Linked DNA regions of Homo sapiens: all the other regions are linked to region 3. The links come from fine-mapping of genetic effects on gene expression. A gene starts in region 3. Each other region holds a variant in brackets. All regions are shown on one strand. Distances are between the middles of the regions.

What was found. PIP is the estimated chance that this variant, and not a neighbour inherited with it, causes the effect.
Region 1: its variant is fine-mapped to the expression of ITIH4 in amygdala (GTEx, PIP 0.96).
Region 2: its variant is fine-mapped to the expression of ITIH4 in prostate (GTEx, PIP above 0.99).

The regions. Positions count from the first base shown.
Region 1 is chr3:53,794,222-53,796,979 of GRCh38, forward strand. All of the region lies in intron 40 of CACNA1D (calcium voltage-gated channel subunit alpha1 D), which reads left to right. Among named protein-coding and RNA genes, the nearest start is that of CHDH, 51 kb to the right of the region's middle. The variant T/C (reference allele first, on the strand shown) is at 1,660.
Region 2 is chr3:52,500,827-52,503,584 of GRCh38, forward strand. It overlaps STAB1 (stabilin 1), which reads left to right. Exons shown (of 69, transcript NM_015136.3): 2 at 340-476; 3 at 812-927; 4 at 1,180-1,265; 5 at 1,333-1,402; 6 at 1,806-1,901; 7 at 2,173-2,283; 8 at 2,518-2,714. Among named protein-coding and RNA genes, the nearest start is that of STAB1, 6.9 kb to the left of the region's middle. The variant A/C (reference allele first, on the strand shown) is at 1,466.
Region 3 is chr3:52,829,142-52,831,899 of GRCh38, forward strand. ITIH4 (inter-alpha-trypsin inhibitor heavy chain 4) reads right to left here and starts at 1,531. Exons shown (of 24, transcript NM_002218.5): 1 at 1,412-1,531; 2 at 1-138. The coding sequence starts at 1,501.

The sequences.
Region 1 (2,758 bases), 970 kb after region 3:
TTTAGTACCATTCACCTAGTGTCCTTTGGCAGCCCAATTGTGTCATGATTAGATGATCTGTGCGAAGGAGCTGGCTAAGACTTACTAACAGTTCTAGGGTGGGTAGAAACCCAGGTGAGTTCATTCTCCTTGGCACCTCTTAGACCTAAGGGACACAGCTGTTTGAGATCTTGGAAGGGCACATAATTCTAAGGCATGGTGAAGGCAACCCATTCAGACGTCCCAAAGGCTGGCTCAGGGAAGCCATAGGAAGGCCATTTCTTCCAAGAGTGGAGAAAGGTCCACAGAAGAGTGGGAATCCTAGATGGGGTAAAAAAGTCTACACCTGAGGAAAAAGTAGTAGTGCCTGTTGGAGGATAGATTGATCAGCAGTTATCAAACTTTTTGGTCTTCGGACCCTTTTATACTCTACATTATTGAAGACCCTTGTGTGTCAATATTTACTGTCTTAGAAATTAAAACGGAGCAGTTTTTAAAACAAGAACATGCAAGCACAAAGACGCCAGGGTGATGACATCATGCATCAGGCAGCCTTTGAAAACCTCACTGTGCTCTCATGAGAGGATGAGAGTGTTGAAGGCAAAGAACATCCTTATGTTATGCAAATCACAGTGACCTCATGGACCCCTGACAGTGTCTTGGGATGCCCCAAGGTCCCCAGAACACACCTGAGAACTGCTTTGGGGGAATGCTACTAGGTCCCCCTAAAGGCAGAGGGTGCTGGAGCCTTTTAATCATCTCCCTTGTTAAAGAGGCTCCTGTGCAGTGGCACTGCCCTAACTGGAGCCCTTCTCCCCCTCCAGCCCCTTCCCAGTCTCAGCCCACTCCCCGGAGGCATGGAGCTGCCTGTGTCCCCATTCGTCTAGCATGGCCGAGTCTTGCGGCCTGTGCTGATCTGCAGGTGTGATGGTCTGAATCAGGGCAGGATAGAAAGTGTTTTTAAAAATCAGCTCCCCTAAGTGCACAACTGGGACCAAGGATGTGTGCCAAACAGGATCCGTTTCAGGGATAACTTTTGATCATTTGTCATCTCCATGCTGACTTAGGAATATAAGAGCTCTGCTAGGGTAGTCAAAAGAGGGTTAGCCTTGATCAGGTGGCACCCCACAGTCGTGACTATAGGTGAGTAAGTGTGTGATTCAGACTCCAATCCAGCGTTCTTTCCCAGTAGGTGCAGTGACTTTGCCTGGGTGGTGGTTGAGGTGGGGAGTTTGGGAGAGGTAAGGCAGCCCAGTGTCACAGGAAGAACAGGCTTAGGGGCCAAGAGTCCTCACTGAGCCTTTGACTCATTTGGGCACATAATTTAACCACATGGGAATAACTTTGGCTCTCCCTTCCTCCCAGAATCTAGTGGAATATTTGTATGTAAGCTCACAATGACTGGTATAAAGATGCTATCAGAACAGAAGTTGTGTTTTACAGCTTCTGCTAAGCCTAAACTTTACAGAATGCTCTATTATCAGGAAACTGGCAAGACTTTTTTTGATTCGGTTGTTAAAATTACAACGAATCAGATTCCTGATTGCACCAAGAATCAAGGTGGAACTGAAACGGAGAGCTCTCAGATTGTGTGCAGGCAAAGGTCATATTTTAGATAATTTCTTTAAAGTTTCCTTTATCTTTCCAAGTGATGGGAATAGCGCAACCCCTAGGGGAGCT[T/C]GTGGGGGTCATGTTACCCCTGACTTTTCAGTGAGGGTTGGAATCACTGTGGATGACTAACAGAGCGCCAGGATCCCAACCCTTTATATCTGACACAAGGACCATTCACAATGGACACAAAGGCTGCCATCACATTATCCCTGGAGGAGAGTGGTGACAAAATAAGGGGTGTGCCCACGTGTGATGTGCTGAGGAGGCGGACGGCAGCTTGCAGATGAGCAGGTTTATTCCATAAGAACTTAATCTCATTCTGTTTTCTAATGGAACTAGTCTAAAAAGGTCCCCTCTCATTGGGTATAGACTGAATCCTGCTAAAGGGTTAACCAGAACTTGTCACCAGCGAGACGACTGTGTGCAGGGCCAGCCTAGGCTGAGTGCAGCCTGCCTGTGATGGGGAACAGGCTCTGCCAGGCAGGGTTCTTTGGCTGGAGTCTCAAAGCCTGGCGCTTGTATCCTGAAGATGAATGGCCTGGCCCAGTCCCGACTAGAGACATGCATCTCTTATCTCCACTGCTACAGCGTAGGTCCAGGGCGGGGCTCTGGGCACTTGTGCATGCTTGCTGTGGCGCTGTGAGGGCTGGCAGATGGCTGGTGTGTCTGATGGAGCTAGCTTAGGGACACAGGCAGCAAAAGCATTGCAAATGCATCTAGGCAGGAGAAACTTAACCCTAAAAGTGGGCAGGAGAAAGAAAGGTAAATGGGTGTTCATATTTGATGTCAAAATGTCATCATATTATGCTATTCAGAAGTGTTTTGAGACATTTTAGTTTTTTTTGGTAACTTAATCATTCAATAGAATATCTATGAAATTCCAACTAAATGGTGTCTAAAATTTTAAGCAGCAGTCTACAGGCAAAGCGCCAACATTTCTTTTCTAAAAATTATTTATGATAACATCTAGCATTTTAAAATCAACCAGAAACTAGGCTTGATTCTGTTTAATATTTTATAAGATTGGACATCTTAAAATAAGTCAATAATGTTTATATTTTATAGCAACTCTGTGTTTCTTCAAAACCATATTTCTGCTGTGATGTTAATGGAATGACTTTATATGGCTTTAATTGTGTTGGTTTAAGTGCTAATGACCACTTTTCAA
Region 2 (2,758 bases), 330 kb before region 3:
CTTGGGGGAGCAACGTGGCTAGATTCTCTAGTGTCAGAGGGTGTGGACTCAGAGCCTTCTGGGCCGGGCACATAAGGACTCGATGTGACATTAACAACTTGTAACAGACAGGTTTCACAGGGCCTTCCCCATCTGCACTGCATTCCCACTGAGCGCCCCCAGGGCATTCTGTGGACCCCCAAAGAACTCAGCTCTGTGCCCAGAACCCTCTGCTTACTCTGACCCCTGAGCAGATGGGAAGTGGCAGCTGGAGGGGTGTGAGCCCTTGCAGCACTGAGGACAGGGTCAGGACTGGGCGTGGGGTCCAGGCCCCTGACCACACCCTGCCTGTGGCCCCAGGTGCTGTTCAAAGGCTGTGATGTGAAAACCACGTTTGTCACTCATGTACCCTGCACCTCGTGCGCGGCCATCAAGAAGCAGACGTGTCCCTCAGGCTGGCTGCGGGAGCTCCCGGATCAGATAACCCAGGACTGCCGGTGCGGGCCACCCCTGTCCTTGCCTGTGTCCAGGAGCATCCTGTGGGGTGGCAGGGACTCGGGGAGCCTGACAGGCCCACAAAATGAGGAGAAGCACTCACTTATCCATGCCCCTGTGGCCCCACCTGGGTGGTGGAGATAGGCGGGGAGGAAGGGGTAAAGGCGAGGGGCAGGAGGGGTTTATGGGGCACCTGCTATGTGCTAGGCCCTGTGCTCAGCTCTGGGCCAGGCAGAGCAGGGAGGTGGGTGGGAGCCCCGGAAGCCAATGTGGGGAGGCTGGGTGGGGGCTGTGCAAGGGAGCCTTTTCCATCACCCTGCCCACCCTCTGCCCCCAGCTACGAAGTACAGCTGGGGGGCTCTATGGTGTCCATGAGCGGCTGCAGACGGAAGTGCCGGAAGCAAGTGGTGCAGAAGGCCTGCTGCCCTGGCTACTGGGGTTCCCGGTGCCATGGTATGGGAGAAAGGGGGACCCCGCCTTGCGCCTCCCACCCAGCCCCAGCTCTGGGCAAGCCCTCTGCAGGAGCCACCTGCATTCCCCTTCAACTTGTTTGTTTAATTAATACTCACCGAGCGCCTCCAAGGCTCGGCCCCCTTGCTCTTGCTTCCTTGGGGGAGGGGCCGAGTCTGGGGTTGGCCAGAGCTGCTGGGGTCAGGGTAAGCGGAGGGTTCTGGGCACAGAGCTGAGTACTGTGGGGGTCCACAGAATGCCCTGGGGGCGCTGAGACCCCATGCAATGGCCACGGGACCTGCTTGGATGGCATGGACAGGAATGGGACCTGTGTGTGCCAGGTAAGGGCTGGGCAAGGTGGGGTGGAGGCTCAGAGGGGCCACGCTGACTTGGTGCATCCACCACCAGGAAAACTTCCGCGGCTCAGCCTGCCAGGAGTGCCAAGACCCCAACCGGTTCGGGCCTGACTGCCAATCGGGTGAGTGCTTAAAAGGCAAGAGGGCACGGCCAGCGTCCACCTGGGGGCCCACGCAGATGCAGT[A/C]CCTACAACCAGCTCCCACCTGTCCCTTCAGCCTCTGTCCCAGCCCCTCAGATTTGCACATCCCTTTCAGGAACATGTGCTTTGTTTTATCACACCTCCAGCCCTTTGCACATGCTACTCCCCTGAGAGGCCTTCTCCAGGAAGCCCTCTGTGAGCCCCAGGCCGGGCCAGTGCCTTCTGTGGTCTCCCACCACCCCTGTGGTCCCGCATCACAGCTCTGTACTCTTAAGGTTGTACCTGCCCGAGCTGAGTTCTAAAAATACAGAGAGCAGGGACCCGATGTCCCAGTGTGTGCCTGGGAGAGGCTGGGGCCCCATCTGTCTCTGTGTGTCCCTCCCAGTGTGCAGCTGTGTGCACGGAGTGTGCAACCATGGGCCACGTGGGGATGGAAGCTGCCTGTGCTTTGCTGGATACACTGGCCCCCACTGTGATCAAGGTGAGCAGCGCCACTGGGATAGCCTAGGGCAGCAGGTCCCTGTGGCCAGAGCAAAAGAGGCCGACTGGGTGAGGATGGGGCCTGAGCCTCAGCAGGACCTCCGCCTGGAGCCTAGTTGGGGAAGGGGTGTCATCTGAGACCTCCACTGTCCAGAGGCCCAGCAAGGTCAGGGCCCTGCTCCAAGTCACACAGAACAGGCAAGGCCCCTTTGCCCCTGTGTTCCTCCCCAGCCTGGGCTTGGGCTCATCAGTGCTCTCTCCACTCTGCGCAGAGCTGCCCGTCTGCCAGGAGCTGCGCTGTCCCCAGAACACCCAGTGCTCCGCAGAGGCTCCCAGCTGCAGGTGCCTGCCCGGCTACACACAGCAGGGCAGTGAATGCCGAGGTGAGCCTGGACTCAGAGGCCAGGGACTTCAGCTCAGGGCGGGCGGGGGCTGGGAGAGCATCCTTTAACCCAGCAAGTGCAATGTAATTCACAAGGAGGGAGAGCCATTCCTAAGGGGAGCCTATCCTCAAGGCCTAGGTCAACCTGCTGGCCCCGGCCTTCCTGGTGAAAGCTGTGGCGGAGACAGGGCTCCTGGGTGCTTGGCTCACTTGGGCTCTCTCTCTGCCCTGGCAGCCCCCAACCCCTGCTGGCCATCACCCTGCTCACTGCTGGCCCAGTGCTCGGTGAGCCCCAAGGGGCAGGCTCAGTGTCACTGCCCTGAGAACTACCATGGCGATGGGATGGTGTGTCTGCCCAAGGACCCATGCACTGACAACCTTGGTGGCTGCCCCAGCAACTCTACTTTGTGTGTGTACCAGAAGCCGGGCCAGGTGAGCCAGGGTCCCAGGCCGGAACTGTCCCCACAGTGCACCCA
Region 3 (2,758 bases):
TTTCTTGGGCAGCTCCATCTGGAAGGTGGCCTCCTGCACAGTATTGGCCCTATTGACCACTCGGCTGGTGACGACCGTGTGGGCAAATCGGGATGAGACCCTGGAGTCCACGGTGAGGCTGTAGATGTCGATGCCATTCTGGACCAGCAAAGAAGAAGGGGGTTGCAGGGTTTCAATGCCACCTCAGCTCGGGGTGACGCTCTTCAAGAGTTGGCCCTGACTCTGGCTCTAGACCAAACCCTGGCTCCCAATCTGACTGAGCCACTGACCAGGCCTCAGGCTGAACCCAGTGAGGCATCTCATATGTGAACATTTGTCTCAGGTAAGAGATAGCAGTGTGCTTCATTCCCCACCCTACAGCACCACAGGGCAGGGGCCACGTCCTTCTTGATCTATAGGGGCCCAGAGCACCCCTTGGAGAAGAACAAGCATGCAGGGGGTGGAGCTGGTGAAGCCAGGGCCAGTGTCTGGGAGGGGCATCACACTCAGCCTTTGGGCAGGGGTGAGAGACCTGGTGGGGTCAGGGAGCTTTGCATGCTGGCTTAGCTTTGCCCAGAAAAAGGGCAGTGACCAGGTCCTTTGATTTCTGGAGACTTTGGCCTCTGTGGCAACAGGGAAGCTCCCACCAGTCTCCTAGAAGGAAGCCCTCAGAGCTGGGAGAATTCGGAGGTAGACTAGAGTCTGGTCTCTGAGAGTTGGGAATCTTCCTCTCTGCTCCGCAGTGGACCCTCCCCAACTCATCCCCACTTCCGCAGGGCACTCCCCTAGCAGGTGCCATTTGCCTTGAGGTCTGTGTCCCCCGAGGAGGGGCACACGGGCACCTCTTACCTGCTTGTGTGTGACATGCTCATGCGCACTGCACCAACTCTGCTCGGCTGCATGCGGCTGCCTGAATGCAGTTTGGCACAGAGGTGCCAAGTGGCTTGTTTATGTGCTTGGGTATTTGCTCTGCGACAAGCACTGTCCTAAGCACTTCATAGATACAATGGGTTTGGTTTTCACAACAAGCACTGTCCTAAGCACTTTATAGATACAATGGGTTTGGTTTTCACAACCGCCACCCTCTGAATAGGTTCTAGTATTACCCTGTTTTACAGATGAGGAAATTGAGACATAGTCAGCATAAATCATTCTCCTGAGGTCACTTACTAAAAGGCGGTAGAGCCAGGCTTGTAAAACTGTATTTCCTCATTTGGAAAATGGAAATGATTGGATCATCCCCTCTATTAGGTGGGAGAATACCAGTAAGGCCCTTGGGGTAGTGCCTGGCGGGAGGTCTGCACCATTTTTTTGCACACACAGGGATGCACACGCACTTGTGCTGACACGCTGGCACATGCGGAGGCTCTTCCCCACTTCCCAGGCGTTCTCTCATCCCCCAGCTCACGCCACACCCATGGACACTGGCTACCTTTTCGGCAGTAGTAGTCTGGTGGATGGCCAGCAGTGAAAGCAGGACGAGAACTTTGCTGCAGGTACGGACAGGCCTTGGGGGCTTCATCGTGGCTCCAGTGTCTGCCAGGAGGCTTCTGAACTCGACAGCAAGTGGGGAATGGATTAGTAACTTGTTTGCTGCCCCACCCACATGGGGGCAGGTTCTGGGAAATTGGGATCTACAAGCCAAAAACCACAGTGACCTCAGATAAGCAAATGACGAACGTCCCATGGACCTTGGCTGGGGGCAGGAATGTATACCAAAGAAAGGTAGGCTCAGTTTGGAGTGGGGGTACATGCCCCTTCTGAAAAGTGCGAAACCTTCACCAGGACCCTTCACACCAGGCATTCCACCAAGCTCCACAGGGCTGGGAGGGAATTGACAGTGAAGATGTCAGTCTGCTCTCCCTAAGTCCAGCCCGGGGAGAAACAGCGGGGGATGGTGGGGAAGACTAGGGCTACAGGGCTACCCTAGCGGCTTCCCGGAAGAAGGGGGCTTGGCCACCAGGTAAGTGTGTCTGGCTGATGGGAGGGCCCAAAGGCATGGAGTGACTCTGGGAGGTGTCTGTGTGGGGCAGATCTAGAGTCAGGATAGATACGCCGTATTTCTGAAGTGAGAGGTGCTGGGCACGGGGCGCCTCCTTCTCTCTCCTGGGGTCCCAGGTTGCTGTTTGGGTGCCATTAATCTAGCCAGGGCTTTAGGTTCAACCCCAGCAAGGCCCCCAAAACAAGAATGGCAATACAACTGAGTCATAAACCTGCCACATCCTGTGGCACAGAGGTCTCCATGCGGGGAGTTTATTGACAGAAGAGCATGGAACAGAAGACAGACCTGACAGTGCCAGCAGCTCCTGAGGGGTGACTGGGGAGTCATTTGGTGGAGCAGAGGGAGCCCAGGAATCGCTGGTTGAGAGAGGGCAGAATGCTGTTGTCATGAGCAGTGTGATGCTGCCACAGCCCAGACCCAGGGGAGCGCTGCCCAAAGGCCTGGGGTGGGTCCCGGCCTTGCTAAAGTTGAAGCGCTCTGCTCCTTGTAAAGTGGGATCGAGTGAGTACATATTATGCGCTCTGGGCACCGCTGGGGCTCGTGTTCCCTGGTGGCTCTGGGGAAGCCAGCTCCTGAGTCTGTGGCCACAGATGGGTAAAGATGAGTCATAAAAGTGTGGCCAGATGCCAAGTCCTGGATCAGGGAAGGACGGCGGCTCCGTGACACCAGCCCTGAGGGGGCCAGCTGCCTTGGGAACCTATCGGGGGCCTTGGGGCAGCCAGTGGCTTCCAGAGGCTGGGGAGGGTTTCTCCACCAGTCCTGTCTCCATTAGAGGTG